2 separate regions of the Homo sapiens genome follow, and region 2 is linked to region 1. The links come from fine-mapping of genetic effects on gene expression. Tissue or cell type: monocytes. Region 1 holds a variant in brackets; the other region holds the start of a gene. All regions are shown on one strand. Distances are from middle to middle.

Region 1 (8,095 bases):
AGAGATATCTTTCCAAACCCTTTTTTTTTTTTACTAATTTTTTTAGTGACAGGGTCTCACTCTGTCGCCCAGGCTGGAGTGCAGTGTCAGAATCATAGCTCACTATAATTTTGAACTCCTTTTTGCCCTTTTTTAAACTGGATTATTTATTGAGTTTTAAGAATTGCTAATATTTTAAAAACAGTTTTTCTTAATGTTTCTATTTTGAGTGGGGCATTCAAACTTTTCTGAGCTTTGTTGAACATTATTAGATCTGTGGGCTGAATAATAGTTTCCAGGCAATTAACATTTTTGTTTTTGCTTGTTTTAGAGAGTGACTCAGACATCTCCTCTACAAGTACCTAACCCATCCTGGATGCACCACCATTCATACCTCATGCAGCCTTCAGTGAGTATTCAGAAGTGGGCAGAAGCCAAAGAGGCAATTTGATGTAAAGAAAAAACTGGCTGGGCACTGTGGCTCACGCCTGTAATCCCAGCACTTTGGGAGGCCAAGGCAGGCAAATCACCTGAGGTCAGGAGTTCGAGACCAGCCTGGCCAACATGACAAAACCCTGTCTCTACTAAAAATGCCAAAAATTAGCCAGGTGTAGTGGCGGGTGCCTGTAATCCCAGCTACTCAGGAGGCTGATACAGGAGAATTGCTTAAATTCGGGAGGCAGAGGTTGCAGTGAGCTGAGATCGTGCCATTGCACTCCAGTCTGGGCAATAAGAGTGAAACTCCGTCTCAAAAAAAAAAAAAAGGCCTTTGATGCCAGGAGATGTGGGTGTGAGTTCTGGCTCAGACCCTTGTGCAACCCAGCAGTAAGACCTAAGCTTGTTATTCTTAGACGAGGGTCCTTCCACACTGACAGGCAGAGTTCCTATTCTTGTTGCATAGTTGGGTTGCTGCTCACTTACCATTTCCCAGGATTCTTAAATGTCTGTCTCCAGTGGTCCTGACAGCCACCGATCACTGCTTTAGGCAGCCTCACAGGATGCTGCAGCTAACCCTGTCCTTTGTTGCTGCCTCTAGGGTTCAGTTCTGACACCAGGGATGGACCATCCCATTTCTCTCCAGCCTGCCTCCATGATGGGACCCCTTACCCAGCAACTGGGCCATCTCTCCCTCAGCAGCACAGGCACGGTAAAGCAGGATATTTCTGATTGTAAACTCTCCTACTGAGCAAGGCATACCTGTGTAATACTCTTCAGCGTAAGTAACTTATGAATAATGATGGAATTACTTCAGTGTCATCCGGGGCACACTCAGAACAGGACATAAACTACAATGGTAGTGCTCCATGAGCCAGGAATACAGCCATTCTGCTCCCCAGCCCACCCCTTTTAACTGATTCCTACTCATGCACCTTGTGAATAGTGCTTCTGTCTGCATATTAGTTTAAGATACACACACGTCCTAGGAATCCTCATCAAAATAGTACCTGGAAGGATGGAGGAAGCTCATTAGGTTTCTTTTAGGCCTACTGCATTCCTTTTTGCATAGAAAGGGCTCAAGGGTAGAGAAGGGAGTGTGTTGAGGAAAAGCAGAAGAAAGTCAGGAAAGAGGAGGAAAATAAGTCATATAGGGAGACGTCTCCCTAACAGTGTACTTTAGAACCACCTGAAGTGCTTTTAAGATGCAAATGCTCAGACCAATTAAAATAGAATCTCTGGGGTAGAATACAGGTGTCAGTATTTTTTTTAAAGCCCCTCAGCTGCTTCAAATGTAGCCAAAAATCACTGCTGTAAGCCTGTTGATGTTTCTCTTTCTAGTATATGCCGACGGCTGCAGCTATGCAAGGAGCTTACATCTCCCAGTACACCCCTGTGCCTTCTTCCAGTGTTTCAGTCGAGGTAAGGGTGTTATCATTTCTTTGGATTGAGATTAGGAAAATGAACGGAGGCAGGTTTCCCCCTGATCAAGATCTTTCTCTCACAATGATGCTGATTCTGTGTTCACAAATAGCTGGTAGGTATACGAAGAACGTAGGAAGGATGTGCTCGCTTCGGCAGCATGCATACTAAAATTGGAACAATACAGAGAAGATTATGGCCCCTGTGCAAGGATGACATGCAAATTTGTGAAGCGTTCCATATTTAAAAAAAAAACAACAGCAGATGTAGGAAAGAAGGACTTGGTCTGAGTTCATGAATGAGGCCCTTCCTTACATTTGGCCAGCCAGTAGTTGACACCAGGATGCTGGCTTGTATTGACTAATGCGTCTTGGGAAGAGGACAGGCTGTAGGAAGGTTGGGGAAGTGGTGGTGTGGGTGGAAACACTCACACATGAGTGTGGAGAGTGGGTAGGTTTGGGAGGGCACTCGATGTAGGGTGGGCTTTGGTCAGGCTGCTGTAGTGGAGGTGAGGAAAGGAATGCGCAAGATGACCCCCCTCCTTGGCTATGGCACAGGAGAGCAGCGGCCAACAGAACCAAGTGGCAGTGGACGCACCCTCAGAGCATGGGGTCTATTCTTTCCAGTTCAACAAGTAACAGTGGGTAAGAACCACATGCTGGGGGGCAGGGAGGGCTGCACTGGCAGACAGCAGCTCAGCCCGGCCTGAAGTCAGACAGGTTCTCATGTTTGTCTTGTCTCCTCTCTGGCTTGTGCCTTCTTTAGGATTCCCCTCCCCATCTTTACTGAATAGAAATGAATTCTTGGAGATACTCATGCTCCCAGATTCCAGAGGGTTAACCAGGAATGGAGACCATCCGTCGGCCCTGCTAAGGACTAACACTTAGCCATCGTTTTTCACAGGCCTGGGCCTGGAAAAAGAAATCTCTACGTTCCTGCCCTTTACTATTGCTGATGGAGCCTGGGGGAACCATCACTTTTTTTGTGTGCTACATTCAAGGAGATCAAAAAAACTTTTCTTCTTTTGCAAAGAAAGCTTTTTGTTTTTAACTGCAACGTACTTTTCCCCTACCTTGAAGAGACATGGTGGTCGCAGCTTCTCATCTATATGAAAAAGTTTTCGATGTATTGGAATTATTTGGGAATGCTTTTAAAACAATTTGTAATTATTTCTTTACAAACCAAAACAGAACAGAAAGGTGTGGTGCTGGAACATCGATGAAGGAGCCCTACTTACTGAGCTTAGTTATGGACTTTTTTGATGCA[T/C]GTGTGTATGTGTTTTAAAAAGTATGCAGGCTCTAAAAATGTTATTTTGTAAAGCTCTCAGCTCATGCACCCCATCTCCTCTTCACCCATATTATGCCTTCTTTCTCTTGTCCAGATTCTTCTTTTTCTCTTTTCTAAACAGCTGAGCCTGCCTACTTTGCCCTTTTACAGCTTTTAATTTTATGGATTTTTAAAAATGAAATTTCATGTGGAATTTGGGGTTGGGGGGCAGGCTGGGCAAGGAACAAGGCAGAACACTAAGTAGGCCATGGAAGTGGCTGTTCTTTCCCCCACCCTGCCACACCCTGGGAGAAAAAACTAGACTTTGGCTTCAGAAAGCACAGATGTGACCCAGGCTTACTAAAGAGACAACTCCACAGCCCTGGGAACACACCCTTGAGCCAAACTTGGTTGAAGACTAGGTCTTCCCTGGCAAGTTCCGGAAGAATGGACTTACTGACTTTTATCAACTCTTCTCACTGCCAAGGCCAACAGCATCTGAGGTATAGCTTTTTGGGAGTACCTGCTTTCTTGCCTCCTGGAGGATATTTTCTGTCCTGGGCTTCATGGCCCCTCTCTTCCCTGTTACACATTGCTGTGCTCAGAGCCTTTGCAGCTGCGACCTAGTTGAATCCACATAGGCTCCTTCCACACGGTGGAAGATCTGCTGCTTCACTCACAGACCAGGAGTTCTCAATCAGAGGTGGTTTTGTCCCTCAGGCCTTTGGCAACATCTAGAGACAGTTTTGATTGCCACGCCTGGAGGTGGGATGTGTGTGCTACTGGCATCTAGTGGCTGCTAAACATCCTACACTGCATAGGATAGTCCCCACTACCCCCAGCCAAGAATTATCTGACTCCAGGGGTCAATATTGCCAAGACTGGGAAACACTGATATAGACAGTGTTGTCCCTGCCTCCTGGGTTAGGGTAAATTTTCACCCCAACCCTGGACAAACAGTGCCTTTTGACACTCATGCAACTGTTGGGGAAGGACTGGACTGGGATCCTTGAATTCTCCCCAGACTTTGACTTTTGATAACTCTGCATATAGCAAGAGTGATTCTTGAAAGAGCTGTGGCTCCATGCTGAATGCACACATGTACTCAGAGGGATTCAGGTGGGCATTGTTCTGGTGTGTGCTGTGCAATGGTGGGAAAGGACAAAGCTCTCTAAACTGTCCAGAGCAACCTGCCCTGCCCCGGTGTGCTTGGACCCTTTGCCCAGGGAACCAGGACATCAGAAATAATGTTCCTTCTGTGGAAGGACAACGGGGAGCTAGGGTAGCAAAGAGCAATAAATTCCAACTCTTTATGAGGTCAGGAGTCCTTTAAAAAAGCCTATGTCTTGGTCTTTAACTGTCCCCTTCTGCAAGATGTGACTCTATACACATGGAGACAGATTGAAGAAAGACTTCACCCATCTTCTAGGAAATAAAATCCTGCTCTTGTCTTCTCCCAGTCACTCCCTTATGCACTGAAAGGAGAATTTGACTCCCTTGCACTTCAAGGCCAGGTGCCTCTCCACTAGACAGTCAGACAAAGGCAAATAATGGAGGATAGAGAGACAGGTGTTCATTAGGCTGGCCATAGGGAGAGGAAGGGGGTGACAGCAGGGGAAAAGAAACTGTAGTATCAGTTGTCACAAGTAGAGCTCGGCCCAGCTTTCCCTCCCTTCCCAGCCACCCTAGAATTGAGAGTCCCAGTGCCCCTAGTGTCGACTTTCTATGTACATCCTAGGGGTGAGGGAGTGCGGGGCAATGGGTAGGATATAAAGCGTAAAGGACAAATTGCCGCAGTCTTCTAATTGATGCTTCCAAACTCAGGAAGGGCTTATCCAGTGTAAAATAGCCCCAAGCCCAGCAACCTTCTAGAGGGCTCTGGCTGGGCAGATAGCTTTTGTTTTTGAGTCTCCAGCCCTCAGTCAAGGAAAATATACCATAGCTGCTTTCTTGTCAGTGGCCTTTGAGAGAAAGAGAAAACAAATCTAGAATTCTGTTCATCTGATAGACCGGGGGAGCTTTGCTATGGTAGGAGGTTTAGGAAGGGCCTTTCACGCATAGAAACCATTGTTGATATTGCCACTCCCCTCTCCTCTGCCTCACAGAACTCCTGATTCTGTCTTCTTTCTCTCTCTATATATATATTTTAAAATGTTTAAATGGCTCTAATTTTTTGTTTTGAATTTTGAATTTACCTTTTGGAGTTCTTCTCATGTGAATCTACTTGTTAGATTGTATTAATGAGTGTTTCTGGTTTGGGCATGGGAAGTGATGGGGGCCTGAAGTTATTTTGCAGTGGCTAATGGCACTGAGGAATTTCTTTTTTGGTGCATTTGGTTTACACTCATTTCCTCTCCTAATTGTTAGTTCATTTGTAACAGTGGGTGAGTGTTTGGAGGAAAGGAGGGAGAAGAAAGGAGGGATACTGTTTCTCCCATGAAATAGTCTAATTGGTTGGGTTGATGGCAGAAGGAAACATAGGGGAGCCTTCCAGCTCACAGCCAAGGGTTGGGCTCTTAAACACTATGCCTAGTGTTTTCTGAATGCTGTCTTCATGGAGCCCAGCTCTTACTCTCTTTGTACTTTACATCTCACCCCCACTCATTACAGATGCTCATAACATTCTTAAAATATTTTAGTACTTGGCATTTTTCTGTTTTCAGTCAGCTAGAACACACTAGAGTCCTTTCCTCAGATGGCATAATCCTTTATAGGCTCTGAGCCTGCCTAGCCATCTCCTATCGGTGTTATTACTCCTCATCTCAGGCTCTGAGATGATACTCAGACCCTAAACTGATTGGACTTTTTGGAGGAGGGTGCCAGTAGAGAGGTCAGGAAGATGTGGAGATGATGATGGAGAGAGATGTTTTTATTTTATTTTATTTTTTCAGACAGAGTCTTGCTCTGTCGCCCAGGCTGGAGTGCAATGGCACGATCTCGGCTCACTGCAACCTCCGCCTCCCAGGTTCAAGCAATTCTCCTGCCTCAGCCTCCCATGTAGCTGGGATTACAGGCACCCACCACCATGCCCGGCTAATTTTTTTATTTTTAGTAGAGATGGGGTTTCACCATGTTGGCCAGGCTGGTCTCGAACTCCTGACCTCAGGTGATCTGCCCGCCTTAGCCTCCCAAAGTGCTGGGATTACAGGCGTGAGCCACCGCGCCCGGCCTTTATTTTATTTTTTAGAGATGGTCTTGCTGTGTCACCCAGGCTGGAGTGCAGTGATGCAGTCGTAGTCTACTACAGTCTTGAATTCCTGGGCCCAAGGGTTCTTCCCACCTAAGCCTCCCAAGTAGCTGGAAGTACAGGCACATACTACCAAGCCCAGTTCGTTATTTTAAGTTTTTGTAGAGACAGGGGTCTTACTATGTTGCCCAGACTGGTCTTGAACTCCTGTCAAGTGAGCCTCCCACCTCAGCCTCCCAAAGTGCTATGATTACAGGTGTGAGCCTCCATGCTTGGATGAGATGTTGTTTTTAATGTTTTTGGTTTTTTGGTTTTGTTGTTTTGTTTTTTTGAGACAGGGTCTCACTCTGTGGCCCAGGCTGGAGTGCAGTGGCACCATAATGGCTCACTGCAGCCTCGACCTCCCAAGGCTCAGGTGATCCTCTTGCCTCAGCCACCCCTTCCCCGGCCACCAAGTAGCTGGGACTATGGGCTTGTGCCACCATGCCTGGCTAATTTTTTTATTTTTAGTAGAGATGGGGTTTTACCACGTTGGCCAGGCTAGTGTCCAACTCCTGACCTCCAAACAGCTAATTTTTGTATTTTTAATAGAGACAGGTTTTCGCCATGTTGCCCAGCCTCGTCTCGAACTCCTGGGCTCAAATGATCCACCCACCTCGGCCTCCCAAAGTGCTGGGATTATAGGCATGAGCCACCACACCTGGCCTTTTCAGTTTTTTTATTTTTATTTTTTCTTTGAGACGGAGTCTCGCTCTGTCGCCCAGGCTGGAGTGCAGTGGCGTGATCTTGGCTCACTGAAACCTCCATCTCCTGGGTTCAAGCAGTTCTCCTGCCTCAGCCTCCTGAGTAGCTGGGATTACAGGTGCCTGCCACCATGCCTGGCTAATTTTTGTATTTTTAGTAGAGACAGGGTTTTGCCACATTGCCCAGGCTGGTGTTGAACTCCTGGGCTCAAATGATCCACCTGCCTTGGCCTCCCAAAGTGCTGGGATTACAGGCGTGAGCCACTGCACCCGGCCCTTTGTAGTGTTTTTAACTAAAGAATTTGTAGAGTTGCCCAGGCCAGGAAGCCTGGTGGCTCTAAAGGGTAATAGACCTTGTCAGTAACAGATAAGGAGTGGTAAGAGGACATTACTCATATTGAAGATGAAGACCAGACTTTGCTGCTTCACAGGCCATGCGCTGGGTTGGGCCACTTCAGCTCCACTCCATTCGTTTTCCTTTCCTAACTTGACAATCAGCTCACTCACCCTCCCTTAGTGCCTCCAGTGCCTACTCCTGTCACTCCAATGTCAACCCATTGGGAGTTGAGGCCTGTCACTCCAATGTCAACCCGTGGGCTGTTACTTTGCGTCATATGATGCTGTGAGAGGCCTTGCTGGAATGTCCTAGGAATCCCTAGTAGCAGTGGCTATTAGTCTTCTAGAAAAGAACTATTGCTGCTGCCTTGTGCACATGCCCCACCTTCTGGGCAAGTGGCAGCATTGCGCTCATGAGGGGCTTTGCATTCTTAGCCAAGGGCAATAAACTGGGTGGGTGATCTGGCCCAAACTTGCCCCTAGGCTCTGCTAGCCCTGAATCAGCAGGCTTCAGAGACGAGGGTGGGTGTTATAAAAGCCAGTCTGTAAAGGGTAAATTCCAAATCTTGTGCCTTGTTATACCAATCCTTCCTGATTCCCGTTTAAACCAACTACTCTATTTCTGTGCTGCCTACATTTTCAATCCTCCCACGCATTAGCAAATTCCTGAAATTTCCTCATTTGGTAGGCCTTCCATAGGAGTCAGCTATGGACTTCCATAGGAGTT
Region 2 (8,086 bases), 68 kb before region 1:
GTTTTGCCATGTTGCCCACATTGGTCTTGAACTCCTGGACTGAAGCAATCTGCCCACCTCAGCCTCCCAAAGTGCTGGGACATTTTTCAGCTACATTTTGGGGTTGACCTAGCCCCTACTCCTTCACCTTGGACACTTGTTTAAAAGAGTTGTTTTTCTGGAGAAATCACAAACAAGCCTATATTGAATCAGGTACAAATGTCTCTTCCCCAAAGAAGTTACAGATAACTCTCATTTTGCTTTTTTCCCTTCAAAACAATTCCTGAGTGCTGGGTTCATGAGAACCAAGAATTAGAGAGGCATTGACTAAATCTGGAAAAATGTGGGCAATGTAATGGGCAAAGCAGAAGGGCGTCAAAGTAAATACACTGGAGGAAGTAGGATTCTTCCTCCTCCCGTATACTTCCTGAATCTAACCACAGAACACCATTACCTTCCCCATCATTTCCACAGAATTCCATAACTCCTTTACAAATATACTCACCTGTAATGCCAGCAGTTTTGGAGACTGAGGTGGGCAAATTGCTTGAGCTGAGGAATTCAAGACCAGCCTGGGCAACATGATGAAACCCCGTCTCTACCAAAAAAAAAAAAATTACAAAAGTTAGCCAGGTGTGGTGGTGCATGCCTGTAGTCCCAGCTACAGGGTGGGGAGGGGTGGGATGGGTGTGAGGATCACCTGAACCTGGGGAAGTCAAAGCTGCCTGTTGTGAGCCGTGATTGTGCTACTGCACTCCAGCCTAGGTGACAGAGTGAGACCCTGTCATAAAAAAAAATATATGTTTATAATACATATACTCACCAGAATGAAGGATTTAGTTTCCAGTTTTGTTGGTGCTCTTTAACATAATACACCTTTGGCATCAGTTTGCATATCCGGGTCATTTTACTTCTGTGGTCCTAATTTACCAGATTATAAAAATTTAGATTTTTCGGTCGGGTGCCGTGGTTCACACCTGTAATCCCAGCACTTTGGGAGGCCAAGGCGGGTGGATTGCCTGAGGTCAGGAGTTCGAGACCAGACTGGCCAACATGGTGAAACCCCGTCTCCACTAAAAATACAAAAATTAGCTGGGCGTCGTGGCACATGCCTGTAGTACCAGCTACTCAGGAGGCTAAGGCGGGAGAATCGTTTGAACCCGGGAGGCAGAGGTTTCAGTGAGCCAAGATTGCACCACTGCACTCCAGCCTGGCGACAGAGTGAGACTCTGTCTCAGGGGGAAAAAAAAAAAGTAGAAAGAAAAATTAGACTTAAAAAAAAAGTTAAATTGGGTTGATTGCCTTTATGAATCAGGCCTTCAAGAGAAAGGTTTCTGTACCACATTGTTAGGGTAAAGGAGAAGATATCATCCAAGGGCCTAAACAGCAAGGATAAATTGGTTAATGAGAGTCTCTGAGAGCAGAAAAAGGACTTAAAAAAATATATATATATATATATATGGGCCGGGCGCGGTGGCTCACTCCTGTAATCCCAGCACTTTGGGAGGCCAAGGCGGGCAGATCACCTGAGGTCGGGAGTTTGAGACCAGTCTGGCCAACAAGACTACTAAAAATACAAAAAAATTAGCCGGGCATGGTGGCGCATGCCTATAGTCTCAGCTACTCGGGAGGCTGAGGCAGGAGAATCGCTTGAACCCGGGACGCAGAGGTTGCGGTGAGCCAAGATAGCACCACTGCACTCTAGCCTGGGCAACAGAGCAAGACTCTGTCTCAGAAAAAAAAAAAGATATCACTGAGTGATGCCTTCATTTATTTATTTACTGCATTTGGCTGCTGTGTTTCCAGTCTCAGTTGCAATTCCCACACTGAGGCTCTCCCACCCTTCCTGTGTCCCCTGAGCTGAGCAGGCACTTCCTGTCCTATTGGAAATGAAAGTTAGAGATTGGGGGTAGGGTATGTATATTTACTCTGCAGAATACTAATACTGTCTGTTCCATTATCATAGCAAAAAAGTGACACGGAAACTAGAATAGAGACCAGAACTTCATTTGAGGGAGGGTTTGGGCTTAATATTTGTTGTCACAAAACAGACAGGGTTAATTTATATCTCAAGAAACTACTTAGGATGGCAGCAAGGTGGCCTTATGAAGGGATTTGAAGGCTTTCATTTAACATCCCTATTGCACTTGGATTGGTAGGGGTTACTGGATATCATTCTTAAGTTTTTGGTTTCCTTTCTTGTTAAGGTTACGCCTACAAAGACATTCTTTGGAAACTAGTAGAGGTAAGTGTTGCAACTCTATTAGGTTCTTGACTCTGAAATTTGTATTCCTTCCTAAGAATTTTGTGTTTTTATTCTGTTGAAGCATATGCTTCTTAAGTATTTTTTTTTTTTAAACAGCTCAAAGACAACTCAAAGCAGACATCCCAACTGTAGACTTCAATTTAGACATAAACTCCAGGTTTGGTGAGTTACTGTAATTGTTTCAGTTTCATGGATCTTAAAGATGAGGAAATAGCAGGGTAAAGTGTTAAATAAGATAGCCTGCAATTGTTAGAGAAATAACAAGGCACCAAGTTTCATGATATAGTCCAGTCTGATAATTCCTTCTTAAGTATGAACTCATTCCTCGGAGAATCTGAAATAGGAGTGAGGGGCATCAGCCCATTGGTATGACCCAAGAGAAACACATCTAAGGATCTGAAACTAGTTATACCCCATACTCTGTTTTGCTTAGCTCTGCTCTTTGGTGTGTTCCTCTGTTTGTTCCTTTGTACATTAAGATCACTATAAATGGGCCAGGGGTGGTGGCTCATGCCTGTAATCCCAGCACTTTGGGAGGTTGAGTGGGTGGATCACTTGAGGTCAGGAGTTCGAGACCAGCCTGGCCAAGATGGCGAAACCCCGTCCCTACTAAAAAATACAAAAATCAGCTGGGTGTGGTGGTGGTCACCTGTAATCCCAGCTACTCGAGAGGCTGAGGCAGGAGAATTGCGGAAGGTGGAGGTTGCAGTGAGCCGGATCCGGGATTGCACCACTGCACTTCAGCCTGGGTGACAGACTAAAACTCTGTCTCAAAAAAAAAAAAAAAAAATCACTGTAAGTGTAAAGTAGGGGAAGCCCTGAGCTTATCTCACACACTCTAACTCTGTTTTTTTTTTTTTTTTTTTTTGCGTGTTCTCCAAGGCAATGTCTCAGGAGCCCCTTTAAAATCAAGCTTGAAATCTTATAGCTGAGATCTAAGGGTGGAAATAAAGCCCTCATTGTCTTTATATGAGAATCGGAACTTGTTCATAGAGGAAAGGGGATAAATTTGAAAGGGGTTAGACCTAAGAACTCTTCTTTCTAGCTTTAACTCCTGAGACTATGAAAAACAAACAAAAAAAAACATCTTGGGCATTAGGACCCAGTGGAAGTGCCTCTGCCTCATTCAGACTCTGTTAACTTCTCTCAGTGACGTAAAGGAGCAGCCCGAGCTCATTCTCTGCCCGCAGCCCCCCTTCATCTCTCTCCTCCTGCTCCTTTTCTCCTCCTTTCTCCTCCCCCTCCCTTTTTTCCTCCCTCCCTCTCCCCCTTTCCCTCGCTCCCCTCCTCCCTCCCTCCCCGTCTTTCTTACCCCCTCCCTTTCTCTCTCTCTCTCTCTCTCGCTCGTTCCCTAACATTAAAGAGAAAATGCTGCTATCCGTGACTTCCAGGCCCGGGATTTCGACTTTTGGCTACAATAGAAACAACAAGAAGGTAGGGAAAAGCGCTTTTTTGGTATCTAGCTACTTCTTTTTCTGGGGATCTTGCAATGCCCTTGGTTTTTACATTCTTTTTAAAGAGGGGAAGGGGCTTCCTCTCTCAAGATTCCTAATTCCTCACCGCGCTTCTCCCTTTTCCACTACTGCTTTCTGCATCTTTCCTCAACTGGTTCTGGAGTTCAGGGAACTTTCAGTCTCTGCGAGGCCTGAAAAGACAGGGGAATTAAAAACAAATCAAGCTTGCAAGTTTGTATCCTTATGAAATGAAGTTAGTTTGACTTCCTGCTGATGTATCAATCTCCACAAGGATAATATGTCATTTCAGACCCTGTCCCCCAGTCCACCCCACCCCACAAGATTATTTTATTTTTTGATTAACTGTTTCCATTCTCTCCCCAACCTTCCCTCCTACCCATACCACCAGTAGTATTAGATAGCTGAAATCATAGATAGTCAGAGAAACCACAACAGTTTATCAAGAGCTGGGTATACTCTTCTAGACTACAGATCCTACCCCACCCAGCCTATAGAGAAGGAGTCTTGAGAGACATCGCACCTTGGGATTAAGGCACAGAGCGCTGTGATACTTTGGATCTTGTATTTGAACTGATACTTGGACCTCTGCAGATAGCCAGACTTTGCAGTGATCCTAGGAGTCTTTATGATTAACCCATGGCTGCCAGAGAATTGTGCTGTCCTTGGGCACATGGGGAGAGATGGACAATCTTGTCCATATTTGACAAGGAATATATTTGGCAGTTTCTGGCATTTCAGGGCGCACAGCATACTGATTAGGAGGAATTTCATGCTGTAGCAGGAAGAAGACTCTTTACCCTCTCTTTGTGTTGTAGCTGTTCTTTGAAGAAAAAATGTGACATAGACATTTAGGGAATCTTTTGCTCATCTAATGGAATGTTGGAGGGTGAGGAACGATTCCTGCTGCTTTCTCATGTACCTAATGAGACCATTAGAGGTGGATTTAAACACAAGTGTCTGATCAATGCAGTGGGTAAATGTTTAGACCCAAAACACTTAATGTTGATTTATGGGCTTAGTCTGTGTGGTACTCATTTTGTTTATATCCTGAAGAAATATGGGTAGAGGGGAGAGGAAATGGGGAGCTATAGGTCAGAGGATACAAAGTAGTAGATATGTAGGATGAACAAATCCTGAGATCCAATGTACAACATGAGGACTATAGATGATAAAGTTGTACTGTATATGGGATTCATGCTAAATGAGCAGACTTTAGCTCCTCTTGCCACAAAAAGAAACAAAAGGGACAATTATGTGGGATGATTAATTTACTTCACTATAGTAACCTTTCTACTATCTATATGTATCCCGTAACATGTTGTATACCTTAAATATACACAATAAAATTTACTTTAAAAAAGAAATGAGGCTGGGCATGGTGGCTTATGCCTGTAATCCCAGCACTTGGGAGGCCAAGGTGGGTGGATCACTTGAGGTCAGGAGTTCGAGACCAGCCTGGTCAACATGGTGAAACCCCAAATTAGCTGGGCTTGGTGGCACGCGCCTGTAATCCCAGCTACTCAGGAGGCTGAAGCAGGAGAATCACTTGAACCTGGGGGACAGAGGTTGCAATGAGCCAGGATTGTGCCACTGCACTCCAGCCTGGGTGACAGAGCAAGACTCCATCTCAAAAAGAAATGAAATATGAGTTTATACACATTTGTTGGTTATCAATATATGTTTATATGTACATATACTGACATCCCTTTATCAAATATATGTATAGATAATACATTATATATTATACGTATATATTTGAAAGGGAAATATTTCACATGTCTTTATTCTTTTCAAACCTTGTAGAGTACCATGTGAAAATTTCTTTCCTGATTTTTTTCCCTCCTAGTTCTCTCAGGTTACCCAGAACTCATTAAAATAAAATGAATTCCCAAAATGAATTGCTTCCCTATTAGAGGTTTCACGTATTTGAAGCTATCTAAAAATCTCTTTTTGCTCTCTGCTCCCTCTCCCACCTTGGAGTATAGGAAAAAGTTAATTAGCTTCTAAATCTAGGATAGTATAGGGGACAAGAGGTATGGTTGTGGGTTTGGGTTGAAATCTCTTAGTAAGGTTTGACAATTCAGGAATTGTTGGAATTGGTTGGGGAGGATAGGTAGATACATAATTACTAATTACTAATGTATTTGTCAATTCTTTGGGTTCTTATAAGTCAATGTTATGATCAGATGTAAGGATGCTGTATCTGTGCATCACTCTGTGGCCATGCATATGACTCCTTTTGTGCCTATATAAGTTTGTGAACGTGGAGGGTTTTCATATTTTTATTTTTACTTTTTTTTTTTTTGAGATGGAGTCTCGCTCTGTCACCCAGGCTGGAGTGCAGTGGTGTGATCTCAGCTCACTGCAGCCTCCGCCTCCCAGGTTCAAGCAATTCTGCCTCAGCCTCACAAGTAGCTGGAACTACAGGAGTGCCACCACACCCGGACAATTTTTTTGTGTTCTTAGTAGAGACGGGGTTTCACCATGTTGGCCAGGCTGGTCTCAAACTCCTGACCTCAAGTGATCTGCCCTGCCTTGGACTCCCAAAGTGCTGAGATTATACTTTGAGTCACCAAGCCTGGCCCATATTTTTATTTATTTATTTGAGATGGAGTCTTGCTCTGTCGCGCCCAGGCTGGAATGCAGTGGCGTGATTTCGGCTCACTGCAACCTCCGCCTCCTGGGTTCAAGTGATTCTCCTGCCTCAGCTTTCTGACTAGTTGGGATTACAGGTGCCCGCCACCACGCCCAGCTAATTTTTTTGTATTTTTAGTAGAGACGGGGTTTCATCATGTTGGTCAGGCTGGTCTTGAACTCCTGACCTCAGGTAATCTGCCTGCCTCGGCCTCCCAAAGTGCTGGGATTACAGGCATGAGCCACTGCGCCTGGCCCCATATTTTTATTTTTATTTTACTTAATTTTTTTCCTCAACACTAGATGACCAGGGAGGGTGTTTTTAAACTATAGCATTATTACGTTGCTCTTTGTCTTGTCAAGTAGGGCTTACTGTGTTTCTGTTTTGGAAAGGGTTGTAGATGCATTTGCTTATGTAATTTGTGTATTTTCCATACTCAGTTAAATTTTATTTATTTGTTTATTTATTTATTTTGAGACAGAGTCTTACCCTGTCACCCAGGCTGGAGTCCAGTGGCGCGATCCTGGCTCCCTGCAACCTCAGTCTCCTGGGTTCAAGCGATTCTCCCGCCTCAACCTCCTGGGTAGCTGGGACTACAGGTGTGCGCCACCAGGCCCAGCTAAATTTTCTAATTTTAGTAGAGACGAGGTTTTGCCATGTTGCCCAGGCTGGTCTTGAACTCCTGGCCTCAAGCAATCTGCCTGCCTCGGGTTCCCAACGTGCTGGGATTACAGGCGTGAGCCACTGTCTGGCCCATTTATTTATTTATTTATTTTGAGACAGGGTATCACTCTGCAGTCTGGGCTGGAGGACAGTGCCATGATCTCGGCTCACTACAATCTCCAACCCCTGGGCTTAAGCGAGCCTCCCACCTCAGCCAACTTTTATATATAACTTTTTTGTTGTTTGTTTTCGAGACAGAGTCTCGCTCTGTCACCCAGGCTGGAGTGCAGTGGGGCGATCTCAGCTCACTGCAACCTCCGACTCCTGGGTTCAAGTGATTCTTCTGCCTCAGCCTCCTGAGTAGCTGGGATTACAGAGGCCCACCACCACGCCTGGCTAATTTTTTATATTTTTGGTAGAGATGGCGTTTCACCATGTCGGCCAGGCTGTTCTCGAACTCCTGACCTCAAGTGACCTGCCCACCTCGGCCTCCCAAAGTGCTAGGATTACAGGCGTGAGCCACCACGCCCTACCTATATATAACTTTTATATAAAAGTTACTGTTTCTTACTGAAACTAATGAAAGTTATTGTAAAAATTTAACTTTGGTGCTCACGCCTGTAATCCCAGCTCTTTGGGAGGTGGAAGTGGGCAGATGGCTCAAGGTCAGGAGTTTGAGACCAGCCTGGCCAACATGGTGAAACCCCGTCAATACTGAAAATACAAAAATTAGCCGGGTATGGTGGTGCACGCCTGTAGTCCCAGCTACTCAGAAGGCTGAGGCAGGAGAATCACTTGAACCCAGGAGGTGGATGTTGCAGTGAGCCGAGATTGTGCCACTGCACTGCAGCCTGGGCAACAGAGTGAGACTCCATCTCAAAAATAAATAAATAAATAAAATAAAATAAAATAAAACATAAAAGGTAGGATTATTTTATTTTGAAATACATACTTCACTTATCAGGAAAGATGTTTCCTGAGGAGCCCATGACAGTCATAGTTTTCTTACTCTTTATTGGCTGGTGGTAAATATGGGAATGCCGTCAACAAATGTATAATGCCTAATAA

Which allele goes with the higher level. Alleles are on the strand shown, and positions count from the first base shown. SD is a standard deviation of normalised expression in the study named.
With allele T in place of C in region 1, the expression in monocytes of the gene that starts at base 3,410 in region 2 is lower (large effect, 0.80 SD a copy in CEDAR).

The links. PIP is the estimated chance that this variant, and not a neighbour inherited with it, causes the effect.
Region 2: it holds the start of RBMS2, and the variant in region 1 is fine-mapped to the expression of RBMS2 in monocytes (Fairfax 2014, PIP 0.95).

Annotation. Positions count from the first base shown.
Region 1 is chr12:56,586,539-56,594,633 of GRCh38, forward strand. It overlaps RBMS2 (RNA binding motif single stranded interacting protein 2), which reads left to right. Exons shown (of 14, transcript NM_002898.4): 10 at 311-388; 11 at 1,016-1,126; 12 at 1,756-1,836; 13 at 2,394-2,480; 14 at 2,602-8,095. The coding sequence ends at 2,474. It also overlaps the pseudogene RNU6-343P. Among named protein-coding and RNA genes, the nearest start is that of BAZ2A, 40 kb to the right of the region's middle. The variant T/C (reference allele first, on the strand shown) is at 3,103.
Region 2 is chr12:56,518,411-56,526,496 of GRCh38, forward strand. It overlaps RBMS2 (RNA binding motif single stranded interacting protein 2), which reads left to right and starts at 3,410. Exons shown (of 14, transcript NM_002898.4): 1 at 3,410-3,679. The coding sequence starts at 3,614. RefSeq lists an enhancer at 3,845-4,588.